Linked DNA regions of Homo sapiens: regions 1, 2, 3, 4 and 5 are each reported to be linked to region 6. Evidence: microRNA targets listed by miRTarBase, many of them from high-throughput screens and not tested one by one. Region 6 holds a microRNA gene; each other region holds the end of a gene's coding sequence. Distances are between the middles of the regions.

Region 1 (5,073 bases), not on the chromosome of region 6:
GGGCATTTTGAATATGCATTTCTTGGGGTTAATTCACTTGTTTTTGAAGAACAGAAGTGATACACATTAATTTTTTAAAACAATTTTACTCCTTATTCATAAAACAGTACATTTCTATTACATAGGTTTCATCCCCTAGGCATGCACAACCATTTGAACTATTTAAACAGTTTATAACAAAACAAATGAGAAGATAAGGGAAAAAGAGCTCTCCTGGGGACTTACATAGCTGTTTGGTTTTTCAACTTGATTGAAGAAAGTTATTCGGGGGATCTGTCCAATTCACACCTTCTGTTCCCTGATCAAATACTTTAGGGTCAAACATAAGGTTTTATTGATTTTTGCTCAAGCAAAGAATTAACATTTTTGATAAGGAACTGTAATGGCAATTATAAGGTAATATGGTGTATGGTAATATTATGCTGCCAGAGGAAACATTTGACTATGATTAAATTCAAGCCCAGTACTGGGTAGCTCTAGATAATTAAAGATAATTTTATCCATTCAAGTCCCCTCTGTTAAGCTGCACATTGACACATATTTGTTCCCTGTCTTGTAAATAAATATAGAAAGCAAATTAGAGTGAGTCCTGCAGATTTCTGAGAATTTAATTATACCCTTAAATTGCAATACCAATGATATATACGGTTAGATTTCTGTACTGAGTAATTACCTGAATTAACTTCGTTTTACAATGCTTAATTTATTTTGTACTAAGGAAGGCTTTTAACTATTTAAGATAAACCAACCTAATTTTGATTTTTTACTTGCTTCAACGTGTTTCAGTTCATTAATGTTTCAATAATAAGGAATGAATTCTCTTGTCTTGACAAACCAAGCATGGAAATTTCCCCATAAGAGAAAAGAAGAAATTAAAATGATTTCCATATTCAAGTCACAGCACGCTGAAAAGAGAACTTTGAGTTCTTAGGAAAGGCATCTGTTACCTCCAAAGGAGGGCCACTCATTACAGTTTTGTGTAATATTACAGTAAGGTCTGCCAAGAAGGAATTCAAGGAAATTGGGAATGACGACACTGTGATCCCAGGCCACTCTCTTGAGCAGAGGTTTCCTTCCCTTATGTGTTCTGCCCTCGCCAAGCTCTTTCTGAAATCAGAGGCCACTGACATGCATAACAAACCATGCTAAAATCCAAACATGACACCAACAGCAAACAATTACACTGTGATCCCATTGTGGTCCCCAAGATATATCTTGAGATACTTCAGAGAGAAGCTATATTCTTCATAAATCAAAATACAGAGGGTTTTTATGATTCTTGCTTTTTATAAAATGAAATACACTTCTATAGTATTAAAATAAGTGAACAAAAGAACTACAGCACTTACTCCCCTACCCCCAAATGTTTGCTTCTTTGCATTTCACAATTCATATGCATATCTGGACGACAGTTAACCTCCAGTGGCAAAGATAAGAAAATGTGAAAGAAAAATCATACAGATTGTTCCCAGACCTTTCTTGTTTATGGACATTAAAATAACCTCAACACCAATCTATTAAGATGCCATCTGAAAGCACATGGAAGTGGCTTAGAATCTATGCCGCTGAGAAAGTTAGGAAATTCAAAGTTATAACATTAATCAAATCATATCAATGACTTCTCCAAGCATTGGAGTCACAGGGACTTGAATATAATTTGGGGTACTACGCAAGTGGTTGAAGAACTTGTTCTTTTTGACTAACAATACTGACACTGTTTCAGACTTTCAGATGCCAAATTATTAAGATCATTAAGAATGTCAAAACAGGCCGGGTGCGGTGGCTCTCACCTGTAATCCCAGCACTTTGGGAGGCCGAGGCGGGCGGATCACGAGTCAGGAGATCGAGACCACCCTGGCCAACACGGTGAAAACCCGTTTCTGCTAAAAAAAAAAAAAAAAAAAAAAAAATACAAAAAATTAGCCGGGCGTGGTGGCGAGCGTCTGTAGTCCCAGCTACTCAGGAGGCTGAGACAGGAGAATGACGTGAACCCAGGAGGCGGAGCTTGCAGTGAGCCAAGATCGCCCCACTGCACTCCAGCCTGGGCGACAGAGCGAGACTCTGTCTCAAAAAAAAAAAAAAAAAAAAAAAGAATGTCAAAACACATACCATTCCCAACAGTGAGAACTCTTCATATCCTACCTAATAAGCAACAACAACAAAAAACCCCTGGCATCCATTTACCCCTTTGTACTTCCAAATATCCAAAGAATCATGCAACCACTCAAATAACAAGAGAGCCAGGGGTGTTTCAGCCATGTGCAAGAAAAATGCTTAAAGGCAAAATTCCTCAAACACATGTCACAGTGTGGGAACTGAGAGCCATTCCCTCTGTAAATCCTGTTAAAATCCCTTTTACATGAAGGGACGTGAGGGCTGTGAGGAAAACTACATCTATCTACAACCAAAGGTGCTATTTTTTCTCTTCGATCACAGTAATTGTTATATCCCCAACTATAACAAACTCTAAAGCCAAGACTTTTCCTGACAGAGAATCATTCTAAGTACAAGTACTAGCCTTAACCACCAAGCCCAGGTTAGCTAATGAAATAAAAATTTCTCAATACCAGAGTGATACTTCAGAGAAAGATTAGAAGAAAACAGAAATAACAAAAAACCAACAGAACAAACAAATAAAAACTTCTCAATAGAAATGTTCTCTGGTGGCTCCAGCTCAAATATCTCCCCCCTAGTTCTGGAGCAGGCAGTGGCTACTGTTCTAGTACAGCCGTCTTTTTAATTCCAGACTCTTCCAGAGAGCTGCTTCTTGGTCTATCCCCTGGGTTACTTATTACTTGTGCCCTCCCTATATCTAAATCGTTCTAATTGCTTCTGTTTAAGAAGATTCAGTGACACACTGTGGTCCTGTGTTCAATAAAGAGCACACCTAAAATACTGTTTGCTCTAAGAGAGGCGCCTACAGTGGGCCATGGAAATGCACATTCTACCAGGTACTCGGTTTCCACTCTGTGCAGCCCACCCCTATTGTATAAGCAGAGTCAGCTCCACTGAAGTTAGTATTCTGTTGGGCTCCCTCTTCTCCTATAGAATCCCCTGACTGGGTTCCGCTGGGAGCAGGAAAAAAGCCAAGAGGGAAGAGGACAGGATACCAGTAGGAAGGGCTGTTTCAAGTGGGGGTGGTGAGGCTGGGATCATGGGACAGGAACAGGTTTCTAGGCAGGGTTTGGAACATTAAAGTAACAGTATCTACCACCACAGTCAGGCTTGGTGACCAAGATGGAATTTCATGACCCAAAATGGTGCCATGAAATATAGCTGCTGCTTCATGAGTCTTACTGGTCTTAACAAGTGGGGACAGGAGATACGGGAAAGGATAGAACGGGATGGAATAAACCACTAATCCATCTCAAGCATGAACCTACACTATGCCTGTTTCTGTACTCTTGTCATTGTTTTGGGCTTTTCTGGGTGATTTTTCTGCTAACTTCAACACTTTAGGGAATATACTTGGTTTTCCTTATTACTTAGGGGAGGTGCCATTTCAAAGGACCACCCCATGTTGAACAGAAAAAAAAAAAAGATGTATTGAATGAATGGACCTTGAATATTGTTTCTTTCCTCTTTTAGAGTGAAATTCGGTTATTGGAAACTTTTAGCGGGTGTCCATCCAAAATAAGTCATTGCTACAATTCACTATGTGACATTTCATCAAGCCCACTGGAGACAGTGGGTGACATTGTAAAGGGAAGGCTCCCATCTTGAAATTTGAACTGCCTGCGAAGCCTTCCAACTGGGAAACTGGAACCTGGTCACTGAGTTCCTGTTAGGTTATAGTCTGTCCCAAACCAAAATCCTGGAGGTGGGTGCAAGAGCAGGGACTGGGACATGCTTGAGCTACAGGCAACAACGAGCCTCTCTGATGTCTTCTCCTAAGGTTGGGCAGAATCGCCCATCGACTTCAACAATTATAAGGGAAAGTAACACCTTCATGGGTGCCATGGCTGCCATACTGTAGAACCCGGAAGAGAGTGACCCATACACCAAACCCAAGTGTTTTACGAGTTTGAGGGAGTCCGAGGGGATGCATGTGCACATCTGGCCCCAACTGGTGAGCTGGAGGCCATGGCAACCAGGCTGCAGGAAGCACTGGGGAGTGTTCTATTAGTCCAGTGGTTCTCAAACGCGAGCATGTTTCAGAATCACCCAAAGGCAGTTACTCAGCATGGGGCAGGGCCCAATAACCACATTTCTAGCACATTTCCAGACAACGAAGCTGGTCCCAGGACCACGCGCTAAGAACCACTAGCTTGTTCTTTCACTGCCCTCCTACTCAGGCTGAGGAGCAGGGGGATGGATTGTACCCCTGGAGCTGAAAGGCAGCACGGCAGCACTGTCTTTGCACGGTCCATTGTGTGGTCTGCACAGTGATGTGCCAAGAAGGGGCTCATGATCAGTTTCTTCATGCAGTCCTTGCACAGTCTCCTCCCTGACAAGGTGGATGGCTCTTTGTCATTACTAATTCTCTGAAGACAGTCATAAAATACAATGATAAAGAAGCAACGCTGTTAGAACAAGCATATAGCCTCCCGGTTTGAAATGCTTTGAAAACAAACCATAGCCATAACACAGATAACACACTTCCTATTTAAATTAGTCATTCTAATTAATTCCTTTAAAATCCCGGCATCTATATTCGCAGCTCTCTTGTCACAGGTTTGGCCACTATGTCCTCAACTCCAACGGTACAAACCTCTTCGGTGTTAATGGCCTCTTTCGTATTTCTTTCTTTTCTTGGTTGGGCTGTTCTGAATTGTAGATAATCTTTCAGTGTTTGTGGCTAAGCCGGTTTGCTGTGCCTGCCCTGGGTTATTTTTCATAAGATGTCTGGAGGAGAGACTTTCCAAAACATGCAACTCTTCCTTAGACGTGGTTTTTGCCAAATCTTGTTTCAAAAGTAACCCTGGATCTGACAACTCTGAAGCTGGCAAAACCCTGACAGCTTTGCTTTTTTCCACTATTATTTCTCTCGGGACTAATCGATCACTTCCAAGAGAAACTCTCCCGTGGTGGTCGAAGTCTTCCGCAGAGCTGCAGTTCCTGCGTTTCTGTTGG
Region 2 (5,071 bases), not on the chromosome of region 6:
TAAAAACAACACACAAACTGACATTTTTATTTCTCTGGCAACAGATGTACTACTCCAGTGGAGAGACCAACAGGGACATTGTGAAGGCAGTGGCAGCTGACCAGGACCCTTTGTAGGTTGTGATTTTATATTTCAAGATTAGTCAAACTTCTCCCAGATGCCTAGTATTTTGCAGATTACTTTGAAGGGGTCTTGCAGATAAAGCTGAGAGAAGAGAGAAAGAGATCCCCCCCCGTATTGTTCTATATTGTTTTATGCTCAGTACCTGTTTTAAGAAACAAGGAAGCAAAACCAAAGGCAGGCAGCCGGGTGCCAGGCACCAGACCCAAAACCAGGCCTGGGCCTGCCTGACCTTAGCCTGATAGTTAAAATTCAACCCATGACCTAGCAACCGATGTTATCCGTAGATTCCAGACATTGTATGGAAGGACATTGTGAAACTTCTCGTTCTGTTGTTTCACTCTGATTACCGGTGCATGCAGCCCCTGTCACATACCCCCTAGATTGCTCAATCGATCACGGCCCTGTCATGTAAAATCTTTAGTGTTGTGAGCCCTTAAAAGGGACAGAAATTGTGCACTCAACAAACTCGGATTTTAAGACACTAGACTGTCGATGCTTCCAACTGATTAAAAGCTACTTCCTTCACTATCTTGGTGTCTGTGGGGTTTTGTCCACGGCTCATCCTGCTACAAGGCTACTAATCTTCACGCAGCACATCCCCACATTTAAAACTTCAGTTAGGGTGGTCCTCATATTGACTCTAAGTGCCTCCTAATACAAATCTGTTTCCCTTTTCAGTCCCTAGAAGAAACATAATAGAGTGGGTCCAGTCCGTATTTCAGGCATGCCTACCACTTCAAAGCCTCTAGAAAATTCCATGCTTACATCAAATTTTTATTGAGCACCAAAAAGGCACAAGATACACAAGAGCAGATGAAATGGGTGCTGACATTAAGAGACCTAAATCTTTGAGGGAAATAAAATCAGTAAAAATAATCACAGAATAATATGTGAAAGGCCTTAAATGTGGTATCAAACACCAAGGGGCCAAAGAAGGTTTCAGTATCAGGGACTCGTGGAAGATTCCCAAAAGAGAACGGAGTGGCCACATGGAGGGACATATTCCAAGCAGAAAGAACAGTATCGGATGAAAAGAATGGGGCATATGGAGTGATAAACTAGTCTAGGTACTGGACTAATTAGGAAAAAACATGAAATCCAGCCTACAAAAAGACTTTGTTTCTCATTAAATTTCATAATATAAGAAGAATGAAATTTAGCTGTATTTATTAAAAATGTCCTTTTAAAAAGCTTAGAAAATGTTATCTGTCAAATTTTAGGGATTTTCTTCTATTGCTATTTTGAGAAGGTATCTTAATGTTAAGATGTTCAGATTTCTATTAAGAACAAATGACCTCATCCCGCTTCACATTCTACCTCCCAGAGACACATTTTTACAGGCTACCAATTAGTTTATTCTCTGAAAAAGGAATAGAGATTAAGTCCTTAAAATTAGTATTAATTGAATATAAGTGTAAAATCACCAAATTTCCTATTTTTAACTTTCTAAGACAGTAATAAAGTTTTAAAGTACATTATTCCTGGCTGGGTGTGGTGGCTCACGTCTGTAATCCCAGCACTTTGGGAAGCTGAGGCGGGCAGATCACCTGAGATGAGGAGTTTGAGACTCGCCTGGCCAACATGGCGAAACCCAGTCTCTACAAAAATATAAAAATTAGCCGGGTGTGGTGGCACACACCCATAATCCCAGCTACCAGGGAGGCTGAGGCACAAGAATCACTTGAACCCAGGAGGCAGAGGTTGCGGTGAGCAGAGATCCCACCACTGCATTCCAGCCTGTCCAACAAAGCAAGACTCTGTCTCAAAATAAATAAGTACATTATTCCTGATTATAACTATTTCCTCAATTCTAAGATTTTTTTTTTTTTTGCATTTCAGTATTTCTGAAATCAGATGATCTAAAAATTAATTAATGAAGTATTATTTCTCTTCTCCCCCTGAAAAGCTATGATAAAATCAATGATGTATTTTATAATTGATGGTATCTTAACATTAAGGCAATATAGTGATGAGAATAACTGTTGGCCTTCAGAACTCAATTTTTCAGTAGTCATAGTCCCTCAGGTGTCTTAGTTTCAGAGGAGATTTCAATAGATTTTATCATGGAATGGTGAACACCATAAAGTCAGGCAATGTCCCTATCCTTGCTTGAATCAGAGAGGGGAACTCTCACAACGGTTTTACAAACTTCATATCTCACCCAGTCACCTCCAAATGTGCCCCTCCTATCATAGCCCTCCATGTAACAAAAGGGAGAAGAGCTTTCTGATGCTTATGAAGTCCAGGGGTATAACTCATCTTTTGACATCAACTGATGTACACCACTGCCACACTGATCTGGGCCACACTTGAGCATTCTACACCAGGCATCAGTCCTAACTTACCTGGAATTTAAATACCAGATAGAGTGCAGTTCCTCCACCCTTACTTACAGGGCTCTGCCTAACCCCAAACAAAGATGCCTTCAAATCTGCTCTACAGCAGTTGTTTGGAAACAAGAGAAAAGTCATTATGCAAATATAAGTCATTCAAAACAATTCAGTCTTAAGGAGACAATAACTAGCACAGAAACGGGGAGATGAACTGTTTGTTCTGGGAGTTCAAATTACTGCCTTCAATGCTTTGTTATCAGGCCAAAAGGTAATTACCATTAGACCCAGTAACAATCTTCATTGTTAACCTAACACACCAATGACAGAGGAGAACTGAGAGCCAAGCACTTGGGTCTCATTTAATTTAATCACAAAACAAACCTCAGGTATAGCTGTTATTCTCCCCATTATAATAATGATAATAATGAAGAAACCGGGGCTTTTAGAGAGTGACCTGGCCAAGATCATACAGCCAGGAAATATTAAGGGTAGGAATGAGGAGTTTAGTTTGGGCGTTTAATTACCAAACTATCCTGGCTTCTGCTACGAACTACTTTTACAAAGACAGAATCTTACTGCATAGGTTAAACGACACTGGAATGACAGAGCAAGTCGTAGTTCTAAACATCTCACTCATTCAACAAGCATTTAAGTGATTCTAGACCGTCAGAGGACAACTGCAAAAAGTACTTGAAGAATAAATATTTAATAATAATGTAATTATAATTATAATCTGTATATCTAAACAGTGCCTTTGTAAAAACCCTTTCCATCATCTTCAAATTCAGTCTAAAAATAATTGTACGCTATACTTTTCAAGTGGGGTTTAAACTATTGTTTCATATTTAACATAAAATATTTTCCTATTTAAATTAACATACTTTTATGTTCACGGTAAACAAACTGCATAGGTTTTCACTTTCATTTTCTTCTGACATCTTCTGCAAAAGAATGGTCTGCCCATTTTTTGGATAAAAAGGCTAGAATAATGTGACCGGAGCTGGGTGAGGTGGCTCATGCCTGTAATCCCAGCACTTTGGGAGGCCAAGGCAGGCAAATCACTTGAGGCCAGGAGTTCGAGACCAGCCTGGCCAACATGGTGAAACCCCGTCTCTACTAAAAATACAAAAATTAGCCAGTCGTGGTGGCATGTGCCTATAATTCCAGCTACTCAGGAGGCTAAGGCAGGAGAATTGCTTGAACCCGGGAGGCAGAGGTTGCAGTGAGCTGAGGTTGTGCCATTGCACTCTAGCCTGGGAGACAGAGCAAGACTCCATCTCAAAAAAAATGAAAACATAAAAATAGAACAATGTGACTGGGAGAGACTTAAAGTGAGGAAAAATGAATGCTGAAAGAACTAGTAAACTGGCTGAAGATGGAACAACTCCCCATGTCTCCAGAGAGGCAGATAAGGGACTGTAAACCAGCAAATGCCACCTGCCTGTTATCTAGCTCAGAAAGGTGCACACCTCTGGAAGCAGCTGAATTTAAGTCCAGTGTGGCACTTTCAGAAAATGGCATCAAAGGTTGGACCATAAATCTTTCTTATTCTCCAGTCACTGGACATTTAAGAGCCAAGATATTGATGGGCTCTTTCCCTCCTTTTCTTTCTCCTTGTAGCAGATGTATGATTCATGGATTGTCCTTTCGTGGTCTCCATTTTCATCTTATTACTTTTTCTTTGCTTCTGCTTTCTGACAGCTCTGGAAAACAAGGTGCTAAATTATTTCACAGAATGAGCACAGTGAATTATGTAATTATGTTGAAGTTTAATTAACTAGCTAACCAAATAAGAAAATAGAAGAAGGGAAAGAATCTACTGTATTGCAAGCATAAATCCTCAGTCTCCTAACCATAACAACAAGGGAAGAGTCAGAGGCCTAACCAAGCAAAATGTTTGAGAAAAAAAAATTCTTTAAAAGATGGTTACTATGGATTTAGAACAAGCTGTCCGGGGCAAACACACCACAGAGGTAAATGCAAAGCTAGTGAGATTGGACTTTTTAAAAAAGTTTTTTGTACATCTGTATTGCTCAACTCAGCACTTCAATCTCCAAATCCTTGAATTCCGTTTTTTTTGGAGAGGAGCTGATACATGGGGCAGTCAGCAGAGACAGAAAAATGAAACAGCACAATGGAAAAAACCGAGAAGCCTTGAAAGGGCCTGTTTCCTAAGTCGTACAGATTTTCCTTTCCTCAGCGGATCTAAAAGTCCTGACAAGTGCCACGCAGGGTTATCAGCATTTTGTGGTCCTTATCTTGAAGATTAGCTTCAAAATAAACAAGCTGGAACTCACCCTCTGAAAACACTGAACCACACCAGACAAAACAGATTCTTTGTTTCTGGTGTTCTCCACACTAAGTTACAGGCGACCTGCAGCTGAGAAAATGACTGGCCCATCCATTCACTTCTCCAAGCTAGCAGAATCATGCCATGACACTCAACATATTGAGAACCAAGGAAGGGGCCAGAGCTACAACAATGCCAAACCAGGACTCCTCCCCTGATTACCCAGCAATATCAATTGTTAGGTTCACCTCTCATAAGCTTCTCCATAGGAAAAGCTTATTCTTGATCTTGTCAGGAATAAACCTGGGAAAAGAGCTTCATAAAC
Region 3 (5,073 bases), not on the chromosome of region 6:
TTAATTTTTCAGACAGAGTCTTGCTCTGCTGCCCAGGCTGGATTGTAGTGACACAATCTCAGCACACTGCAAACTCCACCTCCCAGCTTCAAGTGATTCTCCTGCCTTAGCCTCCTGAGTAACTGGGATCACAGACACACGCCACCACATCTGGCTAATTTGTGTATTTTTAGTAGAGATGGGGTTTTGCCATGTTGGCCAGGCTGGTATCGAACTCCCGGCCTCAAGTGATCTGCCCACCCCAGCCTCCCAAAGTGCTGGGATTACAGGTGTGAGCCACTGTGCCTGGCCAATTACGAGAATATTTAATTACTAAACATAGTAGAATACACATTTAAGCAAAACCCTCATTTGGACCACTTAAGAGTGAAGGCTTACAAAAACTAGTAAAAGTCTAAAGGAAATAGGTTTTGCATCTTTCCAATACGTAATAAAATTGCAAAGTCAATGTTTATAATGTATTAAGTAGAAGCTCAAATGCTTTTAATAGGGAAAATTTAATTTGGACATACTAGTAAAGTATCTAAAACATTTATTAAATTATTTTTGTCAAGTATCATCTTTACTCATAGATACTACCAAAGAGCAACCTAGACAGTAAAATTAGTTCCCGTATCTGAGGACTCCAAATTAATAAATTTTAATATATTAATATTAAACAGAGCATGCATTTTTAGAAGGATGCAAATTTCTACTCCTTCATATCCAGAGATTAAATTCAGCAAAGCTAATGGACTTGTTAACACTTACACAGAACATGGAAATAGGTCCTGACTACATACATACTCCACATAACTACTGAAAACTTAAAACCCAGTTGCTTATTTCATGGCAACCTGGTAGAATAATTATGTAATAAACGACAATAAGAAAAAGCCACTTATCATATAGTCTAGTCTTTATTGAAAGACTTACTTCAACTGTTGTTTACAGCTTTGGCTTAAGTTGGCCATTTTAGCCTCTCACTGCCAGCAGACATAAAAATCAAGTGGGAATGGCACGGGGGTTGGGAGTGAAAATACTAGTAGAGAAATTATGAGAACAAAGAATATGGCAGTCAGTCAGAAACACATCACCAAAATAAATCTCAAAATAATTATGAAATAAAAAACATTTCCTTGCATGCCCAAAAAGTCTCTGCTGATGTTTTTGATGAACGGGGTGGGGAGCAACGATTCTTAGGCTTAAGTTGGATCAAGATAGCATTGGGTCATGTTATAAAATCATCTGTTAGCTCAACAGCCATACTTTTAATTAATTCATTTATTTTTTGAGATGGAGTCTCGCTCTGTCGCCCAGGCTGGAGTGCAGTGGCGCATTTTCAGCTCACTGCAACCTCCACCTCCCAGGTTCAATTCTCCTGCCTCAGCCTCCCAAGTCACTGGGACTACCAGCGCCCACCAGCACGCCCAGCTAATTTTTTTGTTATTTTTAGTAGAGATGGGGTTTCACCATGTTGGCTGGGCTGGTCTCAAACTCCTGACCTTAGGTGATCCACTACCCGCCTCAGCTTCCCAAAGTGCTGGGATTACAGGTGTGAACCACCATGCCCGGCAACAGTTGCACTTTTTTTTTTTTTGAGACGGAGTCTTGCTCTATTTCCCAGGGTGGAGTGCAATAGCACAATCTTGGCTCAGGGCAACCTCCGCCTCCTGGGTTCAAGAGATTCTCCTGCCTCAGCCTCCTGAGTAGTTGAGACTACAGGCACGGGCCACCACGCTTAATTTTGTATTTTTAGTGGAGACAGGGTTTCATCATGTTGGTCAGGCTGAGCCACTGCGCCCGGCCCAGTTGTAGTTTTTAAATGGTACATTTCATTTGGATAAGTAGCTTTGTATTTTAAAAACCACTTAATGGCCAGGTGCAGTGGCTCACGCCTGTAATCCCAGCACCTTGGGAGGCCGAGGTGGGTGGATCACGAGGTCAGGAGATTGAGACCATCCTGGCCAACATGGTGAAACCCTGTCTCTACTAAAAATACAAAAATTTACTAGACATGGTGGCATGCATCTGTAGTCCAGCTACTCGGGAGGCTGAGGCAGGAGAATAGCTTGAACCCAGGAGGCGGAGGTTGCGGTGAGCCGAGATTGCACCACTGCACTCCAGCCTGGCGACAGGGCAAGACTCCGTCTCAAAAAAAAAAAAAAAAAAAAGCCAGACACCGTGGCTCACGCTTGTAGTCCCAGCACTTTGGGAGACTGAGGCGGGCGGATCACGAGGTGAGGAGATCGAGACCATCCTGGCCAACATGGTGAAACCCCCATCTCTACTAAAAACACAAAAAAATTAGCTGGGCATGGTGGCACGTGACTGTAATCCCAGCTACTCAGGAGGCTGAGGCAGGAGAATCGCTTGAATCTGGGAAGCAGAGGTTGCGGTGAGCCAAGTTCTCATCACTACATGTACTCCAGCCTGGCGACAGAGCAAGACTCCATCTAAAAAAAAAAAAAAAAAAAAACCACTTAATATGAAATAACTTCCATTAACTGATCATGAAATTTTGCCCTCTTTCAGATTAAGATGAAGGACACTTCAGTCACATGTTTACTGTGGCAATATAACTAGTCTGGATAATTTTATTAAATCATAGAATATACAGTCAGGAAACACTACAGCTATATTTAGCTGTTAGTTATCTCAATAAGCTACTTAATTTACTGGCAGACCAAAACAGGCATACTAAGCATTTTTATCAATTAAAAAAAGTCTTCAGTTGTTCAAGTTTCACATATACTCATAAAATTTTTAACTCGGGGGCACAGTTAACATAATTTATTGAGTGTTCTCCCTATAAAATATAAATTAACTTTTCCAAAAACATTCCTCAAAGATACTATAAACAAAAGAAATAAGGGTATATTTTATAACAGAAGAGTGTAATAGATGACCATTATGGTAAAACTAAGGTGCCATAAAAAATTTGGCCCAGCTATGAATTTCAGACCCTATGAATTTTTATGTTGAATACATTTGGCTATATTGCTAAGTGGGAAAAGGAGGAAAGTAATACCAAAATTATTGTGACCACCAATTTATAAAATCATTATTTTAAAGCTAATCGTAAAACTTCAAATGTTTAGAAAACAGTAATTTGTGGGTACTAATCGCATCTTACTATGTAACTGTAAAAGGCTATTTTCTCTTTGGTGCCCAGGCCAGCATTTTGAATACATTGCCAAAACATTTGCACTCCCTAGCTCTGACAATTCAAATACATAGGATTTTATCTATTTTACATTCCTGTTTGATAGAAATTTGAGGCAAATTTTACCCACACAGCCTGAAAAATACCTTGAAAGCAAACCTCGGTCTTCTGCATCTTCCAATTGATTCCTTTACAAACTCTGCACACATACAACTTAAGCCTCTGCTCAGGCTTATTATACCATGCACACTGCCCACAAGGAAAAAAATTAATTGAAAATAAAAGCCACAACTCTGTGTACTATTTAAACTGAATATCCAATTATAAATTGGTACATTGAAGTGTCTAAATAAGATGTTTTTAGCAATCTTGTTAAAAAAATTCTTGGGCAAAATATATCTTAATTTTTAAAAACACCCCAAGATTTTTAAAAAACACTTGTACTATACAACTTATAGTAACCTTGAAATTGGTTTACAAGGTTTTAATCAAGGTATTTACATACCAAGTAATGTAAAGCAAAAAAAAAAAAAAAAAAAAACAAAAACAAAAAACTAATTCCCAATGACATTTTAGAACATACTAATGCATCAAAGATTGTATGAAATTAAAATTAAGGCTTTTTCTGCACAATTTGTGTAATTTTAATTTTACATAGTAGCCAACCTTGGAAATGTCAGTCTTAACATTCTGATCAATCCACTGCATTCAATGCAGCGGAGTGTGTTAAGTGTTACTTCAAATAATTACATTGCTGCTACTTCTATGTTGAAGCATGCTTTTTAAACACTGTAGTTATTGAATATTTACAATATGTATCATTTAAACTTCATGTAAAAGCACAAGTATGACTGTCTGACTTCAATACAAACACCATACTTGGATTTCCCCCCAAAATGAAATGTAAAATACTACAATTTTAATAATCGACACTTTTGGAAGTTTTAAAAATATGTCTTAACGTGGACCACCAACATTTGCTCAAGTAACTCAAACAATGCTGTTCCTTTTTTAGGGTGCAAAACTTCAGTCTGGCTTCAGTTTCTTTAGGCATAGAGAAAGAAAATATTTCCTCCAAAGCGACTCCAAAATCACGCATTTCTTCTGAATATCACACTTTTTCTCTGCTGACTTCAAATGTGGTCCACCTCAGGGAAGGGGAGGGGAGTATCAGGATTCAGGATGAACTTATATGTGATTCCCAGGTTTTCACGATCCTCCCTTTTTTGCTCTTTTAAAAACACAGTGAGTTAAAATACTGAACAGCAAGATAAAAATGGAATAGTATCTAAGAATCAAAATGTATTAGCCATTTTTCCTATTATATCAAAATTTGTAGTCAGAATTGTCTTTATTGACTTTATTTTAGTTTTTGTACATAAAGAAAAATCATGTTCATATCCATCATGAACAAAAACTTAAAAAGGCAGAACTAGAAGACACGTGTCCTTCACCAAAGCAAATCTGTGCTAAAGGTTCCAAACATTTCAATTTTTAAAATAAATATTTTCATTTTCCGATGTCTACTTTCATGTCTTCAGAGTGTCACAGGAAATCGAAGCCTATCATGAATTACAATTTTTTTTTAGAGTCCCGGCTCACTGTGTTTGGTAACTTGCCATACCATATCCGGCTTGGTTAGGAGGAGGTATTACAGGGGGAGGAGCTTGTCCTTGGGGAGGCTGAGCACCAAATCCACCCATCCAAGCAGCAGAAGGTGATTGACTTGGAAGAAAAAGAAAAAATCTTCAGCAAACACAAGAAAAAAAAAATCACATATGTATTTACACAAAAATCAAGCAGAGCCTAATCACAGAATAGAAAACCAGAAATCAACACACCTACAACAAATAGAAAGATCAAAGAAATAAATGATATATGTGTAGAATACATATTCCAGTATTAGTCTTTGATATTTTTAAGATAAC
Region 4 (5,071 bases), not on the chromosome of region 6:
GGCCTGATGGGCCACAACCTGGGCCAGAAGCATTCAGTTCAGATATGAGAATGGTGGGTGTAGGGGCAATGGCCAATGGGCCATGGCCGGAAGGAAATTGTTACAGAGTAGTGGGAAGCCTGCAAAGACTGGCTTCTGTCCGTTTTGCCTTGGTTTGCCCATGTGGATATTCTTTGCCAATATTTTCTGCCCAAGAGCTGTGCTTGCTAGAGTTGGAAACTGGATGAAAAGGTGAAGACTTTTTTTCTTCTCAACAGCTCACAAAGAAAGTGAACAACATAGAGACGGGCTGGGCCTTGGGGGCCACCTTTCACCTGTTGCAGTCTCTGGGCATCTCCCATTGAGGCCACGTACTTCCTTGGAGACCTGCATTTGCCAACACCTTTTTAAGGGGAGGAGAGAGCACTTAGTTTCTGAACTAGTCTGGGGACATCCTGGACTTGAGCCTAGAGATTTAGGTTTAATTAATTTTACACATCTAATGTGAACTGCTGCCTAACCACTCAAGAGTACACAGCTGGCACCAGAGCATCACAGAGAGCCCTGTGAGCCAAAAAGTATAGTTTTGGAACTTAACCTTGGAGTGAGAGCCCAGGGACAGGTCCCTGGAAACCAAAGAAAAATCGCATTTCAACCCTTTGAGTGCCTCATTCCACTGAATATTTAAATTTTCCTCTTAAATGGTAAACTGACTTATTGCAATCCCAAGACCCATCAATATCAGTATTTTTTTCCTCCCTATACAGTGCCCTGCCCACCCTTATCTGCACCCACCTCCCCTGAAAAAGAGAGAAAAAAAAAAACCTGGTTTTGCTTTCCATGTATAATTCAACAACGCAAAATGGGACCATGTCAGAATCTGTATGATCCTATTCTGTGTTAGCTCCAATCAGCCAGCTGAGAGCCATCCTAAATATTAATAGGATGAGAGAGTAACTCCTAACTGTGCATAAATTACAGCCTTAAGAAAGAAGGCCACCCGGTCTCTGGGGACATGTTTTGGGAGGGTGTGGCTGCCTCATATAGCCTACCTTTGCTTTAATCAGCATTTTATCAGTCAACTCTGGGATTAATGAACATATCCGACTTTATGGGTATGTGTATATTCAGTGCCAGTACCACCTCCCAGGCTAATGTGTTAACAGTGTTTTCTATGATTCTAAACTTGTTTTCTTTGTATTTCTAAGAAATACAACTAGGCCCTAACTTTTGGTCTGTGGTCAGAGGTCAGTGTCTGTGCTATTCCAGGATCTATTATTTCAGTTTGCCCTTTTATTCTCTCCGTTTGTAACAGTACCTTCCTGTCCTGGTCCCTGATCACTTTAGCTAATATCCTTTGAATTATTTATCTAGTTCAGAGTTTCCAATACCGTTCCTGACAAAACCCCACTTGGATTTGGTTGGCTCTCTCAGCCCACATCAGTACAGTGGACCAACATTTCCAGGGAGAACCATATTTAATGTCCCTCATGCTCTCTTTTTGAATCCAAGTGCTCAGAGCTCTTGACTGTGAATTATTTACCCCAAATTCATTATCTTGCACTTTTTTTTGAGATGGAGTCTTGCTCTGTTGCTCAGGCTAGAGTGGAGTGGCGCAATCTCAGCTCACTGCAACCTCCGCCCCCAGGTTCAAGCGATTCTTGTTCTCAGCCTCCTGAAGAGCTGGGATTACAGGTGCCCACCACCATTCCTGGCTAATTTTTGTATTTGTAGTAGAGATGGGGTTTCACCATGTTGGCCAGGCTGGTTTCCAACTCCTGATCTCAATTGATCCACCCGCTTCCCAAAGTGCTGGGATTACAGGCATGAGACACCGCGCCTGGCCTTATCTTGCACTTTCAACATAATCATCCCTGCTTCTCATCTGCCCTGCAGTGCTCTTGGACCTGGAAGATCTCCCTGTGGTCTGGCCCCTTTGCCTTGGTTGTTAACCTCCAGCTTCTTTGCAGGAGTGTATTTCCCCAAAACTTGTGGCTTTCACAGTAGACTCCGTTTCCATCCTCTCTCTCACAAAGGATGTTAAGTATGCCTGGCCCTCACACAGTCCATGGGAAACCTTATTTTTAACATTACTCCATTGAGTCAATAAATATTTACCATCTGCTGTGTGCAAGTTACTAGGCAAATTTCTGTATCCTTGTCCCTAAAATTCTTGTCTTTAAATTCATTGTGGAATTTCTTTAGACTTCACACTGACTTTTATTACTAAGGTCACCTTTATACCAACTGCCTTCCTCAAAATGCTTATAATGAAATAACAGAATCTTGAGTTGGAAACAGCCCAAAGAAATAATCCAATGTTGTACTCAGTGCAGAATTCCCTAGAATTTCTAACAGGTTGTCATTCAGCTTCTGCTAAGCCATGTTCAAACAGCTTATTCCATTTGGAACTGCACTGATATTAAAAAAAATTCCTTATATTGAGCTGAAATCTACCTATCTTCTAAGTGGTCTTAGTTCTGCTCTAATCTCTCCTTCCAAAATCTTTGGATCTTTTGAAAAAAGTTCCTCCCAAGTTCTTTTATAAGTGACATGACTTTTAGACCCCTTCCCATCTTTGTCAACAAAAGTAGGGTGCCAGACCAGTCACAGAACACTAAATGTCATCCATGTTTCCTTCAGTAGAAACCAGCAGTTTTAAAAGAGGTAAGCTGTGTTCACTAAAGACTGTTCCAGCTTGACAAATGCAGAGATATAAGTCTCTGGTCTTTAATCACTGTGGGGGCCATTTTGTAAAACACACATACTGTCCAGCAGACTCCTTTGGTCATCCCAAATACCTCTGAACTCCAGGGAAGATGCATTCTAACTCCACGAACTTACCTATTTTGTTAACCTTGATTAGACCTTCTGGAGAAGTAACCAATTTGTCCATCTTAGGAGCAATTTGGAATGAGAGTTTTTATTTTTTTCTGTAACGCCCATCCTGCCTGCAGTAGACCCTTTGGGCTTAAGAGGTCCTACAGATTCTAATAGTTTCCTCTTTGTAGATGTGTTAACATATTTAAAATACTTAGGACATGGCCTGGTACGTGACAGATGGTGTTTAACATCATTGTCATATGAAGAACACTCTCTGTGGGCCAATGGAGGTGTGCCTTAAAATTCTTCATCTTGCCTGATTTTGTTTGCATAACTTCTGGAGAGTCTGTGTCCTCCTCATCTAGGCCACCTTTCCATTTTTTGTGAAAGATGACCTTGTCCCTGCAGTCTCCGCCAGGAGTCACACAGCTTTTCACAGCAGCTGCCATCTTTAATTCTTTTTCCTGAGATTCCAGCAAGGTTGTGACATTGTCACTTTTTTGTTCTAGACTCTTTTAAATTTTCTGCATTTGCCTGAAAAGCACCCCTGTAAGAATAGATTTCTCATGGCTCTAAAAATTATTCCCAAGAATACCTTACTTGGTTCAAAAGCAGACTGTTTCTCTTCATTTCATCTCAAATCAGACTTCTGGGCAAGATGTTCTTTAGAGTAAGCAAACCTACAACCTAAAAATCTCTTCAAGAGGCATCTCTGGTCTTGTGACGAGACCTCTTCAAAAACCCACAGTAAAACTCCCCTCCCTCCAGTTGGCCACCAGTCTGCCACCAAACATGAACAAATTCTGCTGCTAATCGGTTTCCCTTGTGATCTGGTTCCTGAGGTCTTCGGATCTGTGCAATGAATTATTTATTGTTTTATTAAACCGACAGTGGTGTCCCAGAGAGGAACCATAAATAAAATGGAAATCTGGTGCTGTGATAAAGTAATAACTAGCATTAATGAGACCTGGTTTTCCTTTCAGAAAGTCCAGTATACCTGTAACAAAGGTTAAAGCAATTTATATTTAATTTGCATTCTGATGTTAACATTTAAACAGCAATTCTAACAAAAATGCATCGAGTCTAATTCTTACCTCTATCAAAAAACAACTGTATAAATTTATGACCAACATTAAAACAAAAACAAAATGTAAATTTTCTCTTTAGAAATGATTAACTGGAAATGAGTGAGACAGCACCTTGTGGGTTTTTTAGTAATAAAAAGCTCTTTTCAACCAAATTGTAAGTCTTCCTTCGAAGTTTTTTCCTTTGGTCTGGCTAATATACGCTCCTCACAGCAAATTATCATTCATTATTTGGGTGCCACAGGCCCATTAAGCAAAGAAGAAAAAGAGAATTTTAATGTAAAGTAAGTTTATTAAATTAAATAAGATCTTGAAAATATGTATGATGGGTCCTGGGCAGGATGTTCTTTTTCATCAACGTAATCTTTCTTTAGGAGAGGAGTACTCATTTGCTTGCAAAGGCCATAATCTGTTCCTGGAGAAAAAATAAAAGTGAATGAAACTCTTAACACAGTAAGGTGAAGAAAATAATTATTGTAGATAATAATCACGTAGGTATTCTTCCCAAGTGTCCTTGTTTTATTTCAGCTAAAAAAAGAAAAATATACATACATATACACACGTTTTAGAGACAGGGTCTCACTCTGTTGACTGGGCTGGAGTGCAGTGGTGTGATCATAGCTCACTGCAGCCTCAAACTCCTAGGCTCAAGCAATCCTCCCTCCCCAGCCTCCTATAAAGTGCTGGGATTACAGGTGTGAGCCACTGCACCCATCAGAAAAAACATATCTTTAAATGGAAGTTCTCAGGGATGAAACTAGTCAAGCAGCAAAAGGAGCTTAAACATCTTCATCATTAGAAATCCCTATTCATTTTTTTTTTTCAAGAGACTGGTCTTAACTCTGTCACCCAGTCTGAGTAACAATGATGTGATCATAGCCCACTGCAGCCTCAAACTCCTAGGCTTAAATTATCCTCTTGCCTCAGTCTCCTGAATAGCTAGGACTACAGGCATGTGCCACCACACTCCCTATTCACTATTTTTAAGCCCTTTTTATACATAGTTATTGCTTAGATGTGGGCCGTAACACCTAAAAGCCTAGCAAGTACTCTTCTGCTTGTAACCCTTGGGAAGGCAAACACATAAAGATAATAATTTTACAGCCAAGAAAATTAATTCAAAGAAATTAAGAGCTGTGGGCCAGCCGCAGTGGCTCACGCCTGTAATCCCAGCACTTTGGGAG
Region 5 (5,073 bases), 210 Mb from region 6:
ACCTAAATAAAGCAGTAACAATTCCTTACTATCCACAGAGCTCACTTTTTCCCAAAGGACTCATGATCAACAATGTTTTAAAGGTTTAGCCTTCAGGCGCCCTTTCCTGCCGTAACCGTCCAGCAGGTTGGACGCACACAGGGATGGCTGCTCCCCTCTGTATGCCATCTTCCTCCTTTCTTCCTCCTTCTATCCACCCATACCAGATGCCCAACCTTCGGGGAAGCCTGCCTGGCACCTGCTCCCAAGGCTCTGCACTGGGAAAGCACACCAGACCAGTCTGTAAGCGGCTTCCAGATGTGGGTTCAGGAGCATGTCGATAGCCTTTTAGCTCCCACCCCAAATGCCCGCCCGTCATACATTCCCAGTAGACCCAGTACTCCACATTTCCTGATTCATTCTTTTGTTTCCCATTAGAAAGTCAAAGCCCTTGGGAAAAGTTGTGCTCTGATGGTAGCAGTCATTTACACCTTAGTATAAACAATGCCTCCTGTGTGCATTCTGGGCTAGGGGCACCTCCTGGAGAAATCCTGAAGTAAGCAGGTGTCTAACCATCTCTCCTTTGCTTCTTCCTCACAGGCTACAAGGAGCAGGGCATCCCACAGCAGCTGTGAGCCCACGGGAGCCGCTGGGGAGATCCAGGGGGGCCCTGTGAGGGCTGCACCAGGCAGCTTTGGGCACAAGGACCTTTACATGTTCTTTTCTGCCATTTTCTGGACTGGGGGTGGAAAGGGGGTATTTTTAAAAATATTATTTATTTTGAAAACGCATCTGCTTTTCTCAGCAGGTTGTGAGGGCTGCCAGCCCCTCCTGCTCTGGAAAGCACTGTGGGCGCAGGCACCAGAGCATCAGAGAGTGGGGTGGAGATGAGAACGCCCACAGAGAGGCTGGGATGCTCCGGCAGGCTCCAACTGGCCTTGCTGTACCCACTGCCCACCGCAAAGGCACGCCACGTCTGCTGGGCCGGGCCACACCGGGCCCTGTCTGGGTGAGCAGGGGCTCACCAAGGGGACAGGACTGTGGTAGACCCGTCCTGTGGGACCCCACCTGCCTCAAAATCTGGTGCCCCGAGTGTTTACTGTGTGGTCTCCTGGGGGCAGCACCAGGGTGTGGGTGAGGATGGCCAGGCTCCACCCTAGCGTGGAAAGGCCCACTGTGCCCACAGCTGGCCTGAGGCCTCGGGGAGAAGACCAGTCCCACAGGCGTCTCCTGGGCCTGCCTCCCTGACCGCACCCCCCGCCTCCTCGCAGCTGAAATCTGAGGGCTGGGTGTGTCGTGACCTGTGTTTTCCTGGGAAGGAGAGGAGTAGCTCCTTCCCTGGGGTGAAACTGCCAGATGTTTATACACAAAGTTATTAGACTGAAGCAGGAGTGGGCAGACTAGCAGGCTTTCACCCAATACTTAACAGCATTTCTGGCCCACATTCCTTTTTCTGAAGTCATTGGGGCCAGATGTGTCTCCGAATTGAGAAATTTTAGATTTGAGAAAGACAATGCGATCCATTTATCGTACACTTTCTAACTTCCCGGCAGAGTGTGGAACATCTCGCCTACCATCAGGCACGTGAATATTTCTGCAGAGAAACATGTGACTAGTCCCATTAACTGGGAGCTATACAAACTGTAAATAGCCTCACCTCAGTTCAGTCTAATTTTGCCACTAAGTAACTTAGGGAAAAACTTACCATTTGAGAGCTTTTAGGGTTTCAGAATTGCAAGAACAATTGTATGGGGTTGTGGACCTTGATCTGAAAATCCTGCTTGCAAACAGATGTGTTAGAGGGTGAAATTGTCGGCATTACACAAGGACTCCTTCAGTTGCCAAAAGACCATGGGCCTCTTTAAGGAGCCCCTCTGTAAGTGATTGGGACAGGGCTAGATCCCTAATGGGGGCTAGGGGTGGGGAGAATCTAGCAGAAGTTGTCCAGGATACTGTGGATCAAGTATCAATCTGAAATTAAGAGAAATTAGATACTAAGAGGATGGACATTTACATGTCTGTTTCCTTTCCTTTCATTTTCATTCTAACATAGGAAATGCTAACAGATGGGGCTGGCCCAAAGTCAAGCTTCTGACTCCACTTGACACAGTGCCATTGGGCATGTCCCTCTCTGAAGGGCTTGTTTGTCTATCAGAGACTGTCAGAACTCCATGAGGGCAGGAGAAGGGATTTTGCAGGATGAAAGTGCTTGGGAAGTAGTGGCCACCGTTCTGGGGGTTTCAGCCCACCTACCCCATCCACCGGGCTTTCTAATCACAGTCCTGCCTGAGAAGCGGGCCCTGCTGCCCACCCCTTATCATGGATCCCTTAGCTACTGTCCGTCTTCCATTGCTGCCTGGGGCTGGGCTGCCGTTTTTGAACACCTGGCAGTGTCTTTGTCGCGTCCTGTCCTCTCTTCTTACAGACCCCAACCCAGGCCTTTGCCTTCTTCTCTCCTGTTTGGAAGCCTCTGTATCTTCAAGGTGTGGGAACAGATTTGGTTTTCTCTAAAAAGCTAGAACCTTCTGCTGTGTGCAGCAGGCATCCTCCAGGCTGGTGCTGGCTGCTCTCGAGGAAGCTGCGTCAGAGTGGAGCTGCCCCTCTACTCAGATAAAATAGCTTCAGCTGCAGGAAGCCGCCCCCTCCCATGCCCACCAGCCCACAGCCCTTCACCCCACACAGCCCCCAGAGTTTGCCCGACACCCCCTGAGTGATGACAGGTCTCAGGAGGGGGCCGCCCCCACAAATGGGAGGCGGAAGCTTATTTTCCCCGCTTGGGCTGGGGGCGGCTGCTGAGGGGGTGAAGAAGAGATAGCAATTTATGTCGCATGTTTAGTGACACAATCCAGATGCAGGTGGGACTTTCTTGAGTGGCAGGTGTCACCCTGGGTCCCGTGTGGGATGGTTTAATACAGGGGTTTGTGTGTTTGTGTGTGTGGAGGGCCACTGCGCCCCCAGATCCTCCTCTCCCCCGAGGGCTGCGTCTCTAAACCTGGGAAAACATCAGCCTCAGGAGGAGGCCCCTTTCCGGGTAACTGATGTGTGGGAGAAGCCAAGAGGCCCCTGCCTGTCTCCTGAATGAGGCTGTGAGGGTTGCCATGTGGGCGGGACCGGTTCAAAATAGCGCCCCCGCCCCTCTAAATTAGACCGTGGTCTCAGCATGATCATCTTCAGTAGATAAGGGACAGTGGCTGATTTACTCCAAATAGTTCCAGCTGGCCACTCAGACCAGGGCCAGAGTTAACTTCTCAAACACCAGCCAGCTGAAAATTAGGGTTCTCGTGCAGGCAAGTGCATGGTTGACACACAGCCCTTTGGTGACAAAGCTGGGCTTTGCCTGCATAGTGCAGACAAGGCTGTTGGTTCAGAGGCTGCAGGGCACATTCCAGGTTGGGGCCTTTTGTCGGTCGGAATTCAATAGGACATTCCCTGGCTGTGGGTGTTTAGGGCAGGAATTACAGGCTTGCAGAGAAAGTCAGAGGCAATGAGATGCTCCCAGTACCAAACTGTGACACTGGGATCAGGGTGGTCATTCCCTTGGGTCAGAGTGGGACCCTAGAGCCAGAGTGAGCTGTGGGTGGCCTGGGTGTGTCCTGTGGACGGCGGAGACTGTTGATTTGGATGTTGAGCTCTGAGTCAGTTTCAGAACCAAGGATCTCAGGCTGAGAAGGCCAGGTCCCCATGGGAGCGGCAGGAGTCTGATGGCTCTGCTGCCAGAGCCTACCCCAGCCTGCCACGCCGCTGACCTTCCCATGGTAAGGAAGGGGCAGGCAGCATGGTTCCCACCCTCAGCTGCCCCAGACCCACACATCCAGCCCCAAGAGCAGCCTCACCCAGGCACAGTGCAGGGCATTTTAGCTCCTGGGAGGGGAGATGCCTTTGTGAGTTTCAGATGTCAGAGGAGAAGCTCCGAGAGAGTAAGTCATGTGCCCCCAAACACTCAGCTCCTAAGTGGCAGGACAGGCAAGTGGCCAGGTTGGGCCGCCCCCACAGCCTGTGCCGTCCACACACTCACTACAGCACTCCCAGAAGAAGGAGCAGAATCGCATGCAGCCCAGAGCAGGTCCTGTGGAGGGGTCCTCACCCCTCAGGAGTAATAGGGTGATTATGTCACATGTTTAGTGATACAATCCCACCTGTGTCTGGATTGTGTCACTAAACATGCAACATAAATTACCATCTCTTCTCCATCCCCTCAGCAGCCGCCCCCACCCCAAGCTGGGAAAATAAGCTTCTCCCTCCCATATGTGGGGGCGGCCCCCTCCTGAGACCTGTCATCACTTAGGGGGAGTTGGGCAAAACCTCCTAGGAAGGTCCTGGACGCCTCCACCCTGCCCCACAAGGCTCCGTACTCCCACCTGCCTGGGCAGCCCTCACACCCATGCTCCCTCCTTTAGGCAGGCCCAGAAAGGTGCCCCTTCCTGAGGGTGTTGGGGGATGGCGGCAGAGAGACAGCTGGTATTAGGAGCTTCCCCATCCTAATGTGCAGGACCAAGTTGCCCGCTCTGCCAGCCAGGGGCTCCAGCCATGCTGGCACAGGCATCTCAGAGGTGTGAGATGAACTCCGCCTCATGCAGGATGCCCAGGGCTCGGAAGCAGTAAGGAGGATGCTACAGAAAGGAACTGCAGAAAGAAAAAAAGCCACATGGTTAACTTTTCCCCTGGAGGGCAAAGGGGTCCGGCTCTCAAAAAGAAAAGCCAGGCACAGATCCCAACACCAAGTGTAAGGCAGCACAAAGTGGGTCTGAAACCCCAGGACCGGGTCAAAGGCCTTCCGAAGGCCCGAGGTTCTTGAGGAGGGGAAGCTGATAGGGCCCTGGTCTTTCTGCACCAGCGTGGCTCTTTAAAATACAAAACACCCACAAAGCCAAAAACCCTGAAACATGTTCTTTAGCTAACCCCTTCCCTGCCCAGATGCCTGCAATTCTGAGAATTCACTTCAGTTTTGCCAGATCCAACCCCTAGGCTTGAGGGTGGAGAGCCAGGCCTCCTCAGGGTCCCTTCTAGGCTCCCAGGCCCACCTTAGGCTTTAATTGCATTGGCTGTTTCTTATGGTGTTAGTGAATTTTGCAAAGAAAGCCCTGAGCATTGCAT
Region 6 (5,073 bases):
GCAGGGGGCTGAGGGCCCAGGGAGACAGGCATTGTCCCCGGATGGAAGAGAGTGGCCTCCCAGGTCTCTCCTCCCTCGCTCACTCCCCAGGGCCTTTCCCGCTGCAGGTGGCAGTCCCCAACCTCTCCCTCTCCCTTTAGAGCCTGCTCAACAAAGCCATTGAGGCTGCCCTGGCTGCCCGGAAAGAGTGGGACCTGAAGCCTATTGCAGACCGGGCCCAGATCTTCCTGAAGGCGGCAGACATGCTGAGTGGGCCGCGCAGGGCTGAGATCCTCGCCAAGACCATGGTGGGACAGGTGAGGTGCTGGTGGGCCCGGGTGGGTGGGGCGGGGTGGGGTGGGAGTCAGGTGTGCCCTACCCATGGCAGCAGACATCAGCTGAAGCGCTTCTGGGTCCTAAGCCCTTTTGGGGACCCAGAGATGTCCTCAAGGGACAAGGCCTAGGAGCTGGGATGGATGATCACAGATTATTAGGCGAGACAGATTGTGCAGAGCCCATGTGTCCTGCCTCGGAAATGTCCCCTCTCCTCCATCCCTCTGTCCTCGCTCCTAGGCCTTTGTCATGCTTTGCCTGGACTGGTGGTGGCCTGCACTGTCTCCCTGCCTCCTAGCTTGGTCAGCCCCTCGCCGCCCTCAGAGTGGTCTTTCCAACACCTCCAGGATGTTACTCCTGGCTTATGACCCACCCAGACCTCTCCACCACTGAGAGGCAAGTCCCAAGACCTGAGCCCCATACCCAGGGCCCTTCTGCCCACCTCTGTCCAGCTCGCCCACTGCTCTGCATTTCCCTGCCAAGCTGTCCTGCCCATAGTGTAGCCATTTGGCACTTAGCAGGACTCCCCGGCCATGGCAGGCATCCTCTCTGCCTCTGCCCACGTGTCCTCCTGCCTGGAATGCCTGCTGTCTCTTCCGTGCTCAGTGAACTCTTACCTCCTGGTCCAGCCCAGATGTCACCCCCTCCGTGAGACTTCCTGAGCCTTCTCCAGCCGAAAGGACTATTCCTGCCTCTGTTTCCCCAGAGCATGTTGTTCCTGCATCAGTTACAGCTCAGATTGCACTGGAGTGTATTGAGTTCCTAGGTACTGCCCCTTTACAAGCTTTTTGGACATAGTAAACATGTCTTGACATTCTCGGTCTTTTTCTGGGCTTTGCATGATACCTTTCAGGAGGCATAGCAAGCCCCTGATCAATGGTTTTCTCTGCACAGAGCTGGCATGACAGCTCCTCACCCTGCTAAATGCAAGTTGAGTGAGGAGTGGCTCTAGCAGGCAGAGTGTGCGGGGGACAGGAGTCGAGGGAGAAAGGGTTATTTCACCACCTCCAGGACCTGAGCCCTACGCTGCCAACTAACCTGGGTTCCTGAAGGGTAAATTGCAGGAGCCAGAACCCAGGCTGCTTTCTGGATCAGGCATTTGCCACTGCCTGCTCCTCGGTCCCCATGGTGAGCGCCCCCTCTGCTGCACAGAGCTGGTATGACAGCCCCTCAGCCTGCTAAATGCCTTCTTAGATTGGCTCAGCAGCCCTCTGGGGTGGGCGTCAGCTCTGCGTGTTCCTGGTGAGCCGCACGTTGCTGGGAAGACAGTCTAGGATCAGTTTAGGCTTTCTCTGTATTTGGCCTAAGACTCAGGAACTTCTAGGAAGCAAGGTACACATCTTAGCTCAGCTTCATGGGCTGTGTGTCTCTAATAGGTCGTGCACCTGCCAGTGACCTTGGGTGCCAAGAGGAGGCCACGTCAATCTGGAAAAGCCCCGTTCTTGGCTGTCCACAGTTCTTTTCCCTGCAGCTCACATTTGCTGTTATTAAGAATTGACGGTTTAAGGGAATCACAGTCACTCGCCTCTTGGTTTTTGGCCCAAACTAACCAGCAAGGCCGAACATCATTCCTGGGGAAGGAGCCATCCACCTCCCACACACCGAGTCTCTCTCCTGGTTTTCCAGTGACCAATCTCCAGCTCATGCTAATCTGCCCTTCTGTCTGGAAGGCTCTGATCCTGAATTTAGTCTGAGGCTTGACCATAGATCCTTTGCCATGCACCACCATTCAGAGTTGCTATGAAATGAAGACAGTGCATGGCAAGTACCTGGCCTGCTACAGAGGATCACTAAAATTCTTCTGATCCCCGTCCAGCCCAGAGGGCCGGCTACAGGAGGTGCTAGCTCAGGGGCTTGAGAATCCTTTCCCCCTCAGCCCCTGGGATGGGACCTGGTGAGCCCTCCAAATGTTTCCTGGTCCCTCCTGGGGCCCGGCTCAGTGCTCGCTTTGGGCACAGCGTCAGATGTGAGAAGAGGATGGACAGGAGGCTGTTGGCTGCTCCTGACCCCCGGCCCTCTGCCTTGCAGGGTAAGACCGTGATCCAAGCGGAGATTGACGCTGCAGCGGAACTCATCGACTTCTTCCGGTTCAATGCCAAGTATGCGGTGGAGCTGGAGGGGCAGCAGCCCATCAGCGTGCCCCCGAGCACCAACAGCACGGTGTACCGGGGTCTGGAGGTACCTGCAGGAGGCAGTGGGCGAGCAGGCGGGGCAGCCCAATGCCATGGGCCTGATCTCACCGCTGCCTCCTTCCCCAGGGCTTCGTGGCGGCCATCTCGCCCTTTAACTTCACTGCAATCGGCGGCAACCTGGCGGGGGCACCGGCCCTGATGGTGAGATGTGGGCACAGGTGGGACAGCGGCAGCTGGTTGTCCTCCTGGTCCCAACAGACAGACAGAGGCCACCCTGAGCCCCTTGGGTCTCAGCCTAGTCATGGGGAGAGGCACAGAAGGTGGAGGCAGCTTGGGGCTGTGGGTAGGCTTTGGGACCAGAGACCCAGTTTGAATCCCAGCGTCGTGCCTCTCTGCCTGGGAGACCCTGGCAATCCCTGAACTTCTCTGAGGCACAGTTTCCTCATCTGCAAAGTGGAAATAATAGGAAAGCCTCCATGACTGGGTTGTGAGGCTCAAATGAGACACATCCAGCAGCAGGCAGGGCTGGCCCGGAGCTGGCTGAGTGTTGGTGGCTCTGTTGATGATCATTACCGCTGACCTTCAGTGCTCACCACGTGCCTGCTGCTGTCAAGCACGGCATGGAGATGATCTCATTTCATCCTCTCAGCAGCTTCGAGAGGGAGTTGTGACTCTGCCTCTTTGCCAGATGACAAAACTGAGACACACAGCCGTGACTTACTTGGCAAGACTGAGTGACTAGTAAATAAATGATGGAGCAGAGAAAGATTTGGATGTAGTCTCTCTCGGGGTTGATGGTATTCAAGTCACTCCTCTGCCATTATCGGAGTGAGGTTGGCTATTACTGGATGAAGTCCCAGGCCTGTGGGGGAGGTGCAGCCCAGCTCCCAGACAGCCTGGGTGGGAGAGGTCCACATAGTTGTCGGGAACCCCGAGCCCCAGACAGGGGCACTGGATGCTGATGCCGGAGTGTGTACTAGGGACATGGATGGGGACGTCCTCATGCATCTGTGCACAGACAAACACGGTGCATGGCCAGGCGCCCACGTGCCTGGCTGCTGCACATGCCTGACCCAGGACATGTGCTGAGAGAGCCCGTGTGTACTTGCCCCGCCGCGCCCGGTGAGCACTCAGTGACTCTAGCAGTAAGAACAGACCTGCCTAGGTGATGGCAGGACCGGTTGGTGCAGGCTTCTGGGGAAAGGGAGCCTTGGCCAGAGCGTGGGGCAGATTGGGCTGTGCCGTGGCCTCCTTGGCAGGGACTTTTGGAGATAGGGCCAGACGCCTTGGAGGAGTGGGGTCGGGTAGGGGATGTCCTGGTTGGCACAGAGTCTGGTGGTTCCAGGTGAGGGACAACCATGCTGTAGGGTAGGGTGGGGTGGGGGTTGGGGGCTGGTGGCGCCATCCTCATGCATCACTGAAACACCTCCCGGGCAGGGCAACGTGGTCCTATGGAAGCCCAGTGACACTGCCATGCTGGCCAGCTATGCTGTCTACCGCATCCTTCGGGAGGCTGGCCTGCCCCCCAACATCATCCAGTTTGTGCCAGCTGATGGGCCCCTATTTGGGGACACTGTCACCAGCTCAGAGCACCTCTGTGGCATCAACTTCACAGGCAGTGTGCCGTAAGTCCCTGGGGATGGTGTAGGCTGTGGTGGCTAGGGGACGTTCACCTGCTCACCTGCTGTCTGCCTGGGGATGGGGCTGTGAACCCAGGGGTCATGCACGGACTCTACTCCCTTACTTGCTGTGTGGCTATGAGTGAGCCACTTCACCTCTCTGAGCTTCCATTTCTTCACCTGTACAGGGAGTGATTATCCTTAATTTGCAGAGTCATTGCAAGGATTAAACATGTTAATGAACAGGAAAGAGCTTCGCAGACTGGAAGTGCACCCTACAGCTGTGGGTAATATTGATTTCAGTGCTACCTCTGCTACTGGAAAGGGCACAGGGGAGCACAGAATGAACTGGAGGAGTCAGGAAGCCTTCCTGGAGGAGGTGACATCTAAGCAGAGGAGTTGGCCAGGCAGAGGGGAAGAGGCAGGAGAAGAATATATATGTTGGGAGAGGGAATAGCACATACAATGTTGCCAAGCCAAAAACTTGTGCTCTGGGGCATGGCAGGATCCTGTGTGGCTGGAGTGTGGAGTTTGGGGGCGACAGGGCAAGAGAGTGAGGGCAGGGCATGGTTTGAGTTGAGGTAGGGGAGGCAGGCCACTACCTGATCTCGACCATCCATGCACTCACTGGCTGAGCAGGAAATTTGGAGCTCACACTAAGGCTCAGTGGTGAGCACACACCAGGGACAAGGTCCCGGCTCTCAGGCTGGAGGTGGCGGCAGGGAGTGGTTCAGTGACCATAAGATACTTAGGAGTCTGCAAAGGTGTCTGGCCTTTATCCTGAAGGTGATGGGAGCCATGGAAGGCTTCAAGCAGGGAGAGTGGCTGAGTCAGAGTTCTGTGTCAGGCAGAGATTGCAAATAATGGCCCCCAAATTGGATCTGGCAAGAGGCTCTACTTTCTTTGACTCCTAACAGTGATGGCCCAACTTTGTATAATTGGGACAATTTCATAGATAAATCCAAATATTGGCCTGTCTTGGTCCCCTGGACCTGGATGCTCTGATCTTG

The links. The annotated mature microRNA hsa-miR-4695-5p reads CAGGAGGCAGUGGGCGAGCAGG and lies in region 6 at 2,498-2,519, shown strand. An mRNA with a match to its seed (bases 2 to 7 or 8) in the 3' UTR can be bound and repressed. Matches are read on the target gene's strand: a 7mer-m8 pairs with bases 2 to 8, a 7mer-A1 pairs with bases 2 to 7 and ends in A, and an 8mer does both.
Region 1: miRTarBase lists SLX4IP as a target of hsa-miR-4695-5p. Seed matches in the 3' UTR shown: 7mer-m8 at 1,994-2,000 and 7mer-m8 at 1,962-1,968.
Region 2: miRTarBase lists ZCCHC4 as a target of hsa-miR-4695-5p. Seed matches in the 3' UTR shown: 7mer-m8 at 3,630-3,636.
Region 3: miRTarBase lists TIAL1 as a target of hsa-miR-4695-5p. The part of its 3' UTR that is shown has no 7-base or 8-base seed match.
Region 4: the mRNA of ENTPD5 is a reported target of hsa-miR-4695-5p. Seed matches in the 3' UTR shown: 7mer-m8 at 1,650-1,656.
Region 5: the mRNA of STUM is a reported target of hsa-miR-4695-5p. Seed matches in the 3' UTR shown: 7mer-m8 at 1,239-1,245, 7mer-A1 at 4,281-4,287 and 7mer-m8 at 4,965-4,971.

Annotation. Positions count from the first base shown.
Region 1 is chr20:10,623,028-10,628,100 of GRCh38, reverse strand. It overlaps SLX4IP (SLX4 interacting protein), which reads right to left. Exons shown (of 8, transcript NM_001009608.3): 8 at 71-5,073. The coding sequence ends at 4,722. Among named protein-coding and RNA genes, the nearest start is that of MIR6870, 24 kb to the left of the region's middle.
Region 2 is chr4:25,368,117-25,373,187 of GRCh38, reverse strand. It overlaps ZCCHC4 (zinc finger CCHC-type containing 4), which reads right to left. Exons shown (of 13, transcript NM_024936.3): 13 at 2,805-4,159. The coding sequence ends at 4,024. Among named protein-coding and RNA genes, the nearest start is that of ANAPC4, 6.6 kb to the left of the region's middle.
Region 3 is chr10:119,570,922-119,575,994 of GRCh38, forward strand. TIAL1 (TIA1 cytotoxic granule associated RNA binding protein like 1) reads right to left here. Exons shown (of 12, transcript NM_003252.4): 12 at 2,544-4,870. The coding sequence ends at 4,744. Among named protein-coding and RNA genes, the nearest start is that of TIAL1, 24 kb to the right of the region's middle.
Region 4 is chr14:73,962,201-73,967,271 of GRCh38, reverse strand. ENTPD5 (ectonucleoside triphosphate diphosphohydrolase 5 (inactive)) reads left to right here. Exons shown (of 16, transcript NM_001249.5): 16 at 258-4,042. The coding sequence ends at 344. COQ6 (coenzyme Q6, monooxygenase) reads right to left here. Exons shown (of 12, transcript NM_182476.3): 12 at 3,602-4,302. The coding sequence ends at 4,273. Among named protein-coding and RNA genes, the nearest start is that of COQ6, 14 kb to the right of the region's middle.
Region 5 is chr1:226,601,427-226,606,499 of GRCh38, forward strand. It overlaps STUM (stum, mechanosensory transduction mediator homolog), which reads left to right. Exons shown (of 4, transcript NM_001003665.4): 4 at 580-5,073. The coding sequence ends at 614. Among named protein-coding and RNA genes, the nearest start is that of STUM, 55 kb to the left of the region's middle. RefSeq lists enhancers at 540-1,076, 1,077-1,612, 2,822-3,501, 3,502-4,181.
Region 6 is chr1:18,880,696-18,885,768 of GRCh38, reverse strand. MIR4695 (microRNA 4695) reads left to right here and starts at 2,494; the gene lies at 2,494-2,567. It overlaps ALDH4A1 (aldehyde dehydrogenase 4 family member A1), which reads left to right. Exons shown (of 15, transcript NM_003748.4): 5 at 141-296; 6 at 2,341-2,490; 7 at 2,571-2,645; 8 at 3,882-4,069. RefSeq lists a silencer at 1,409-1,640.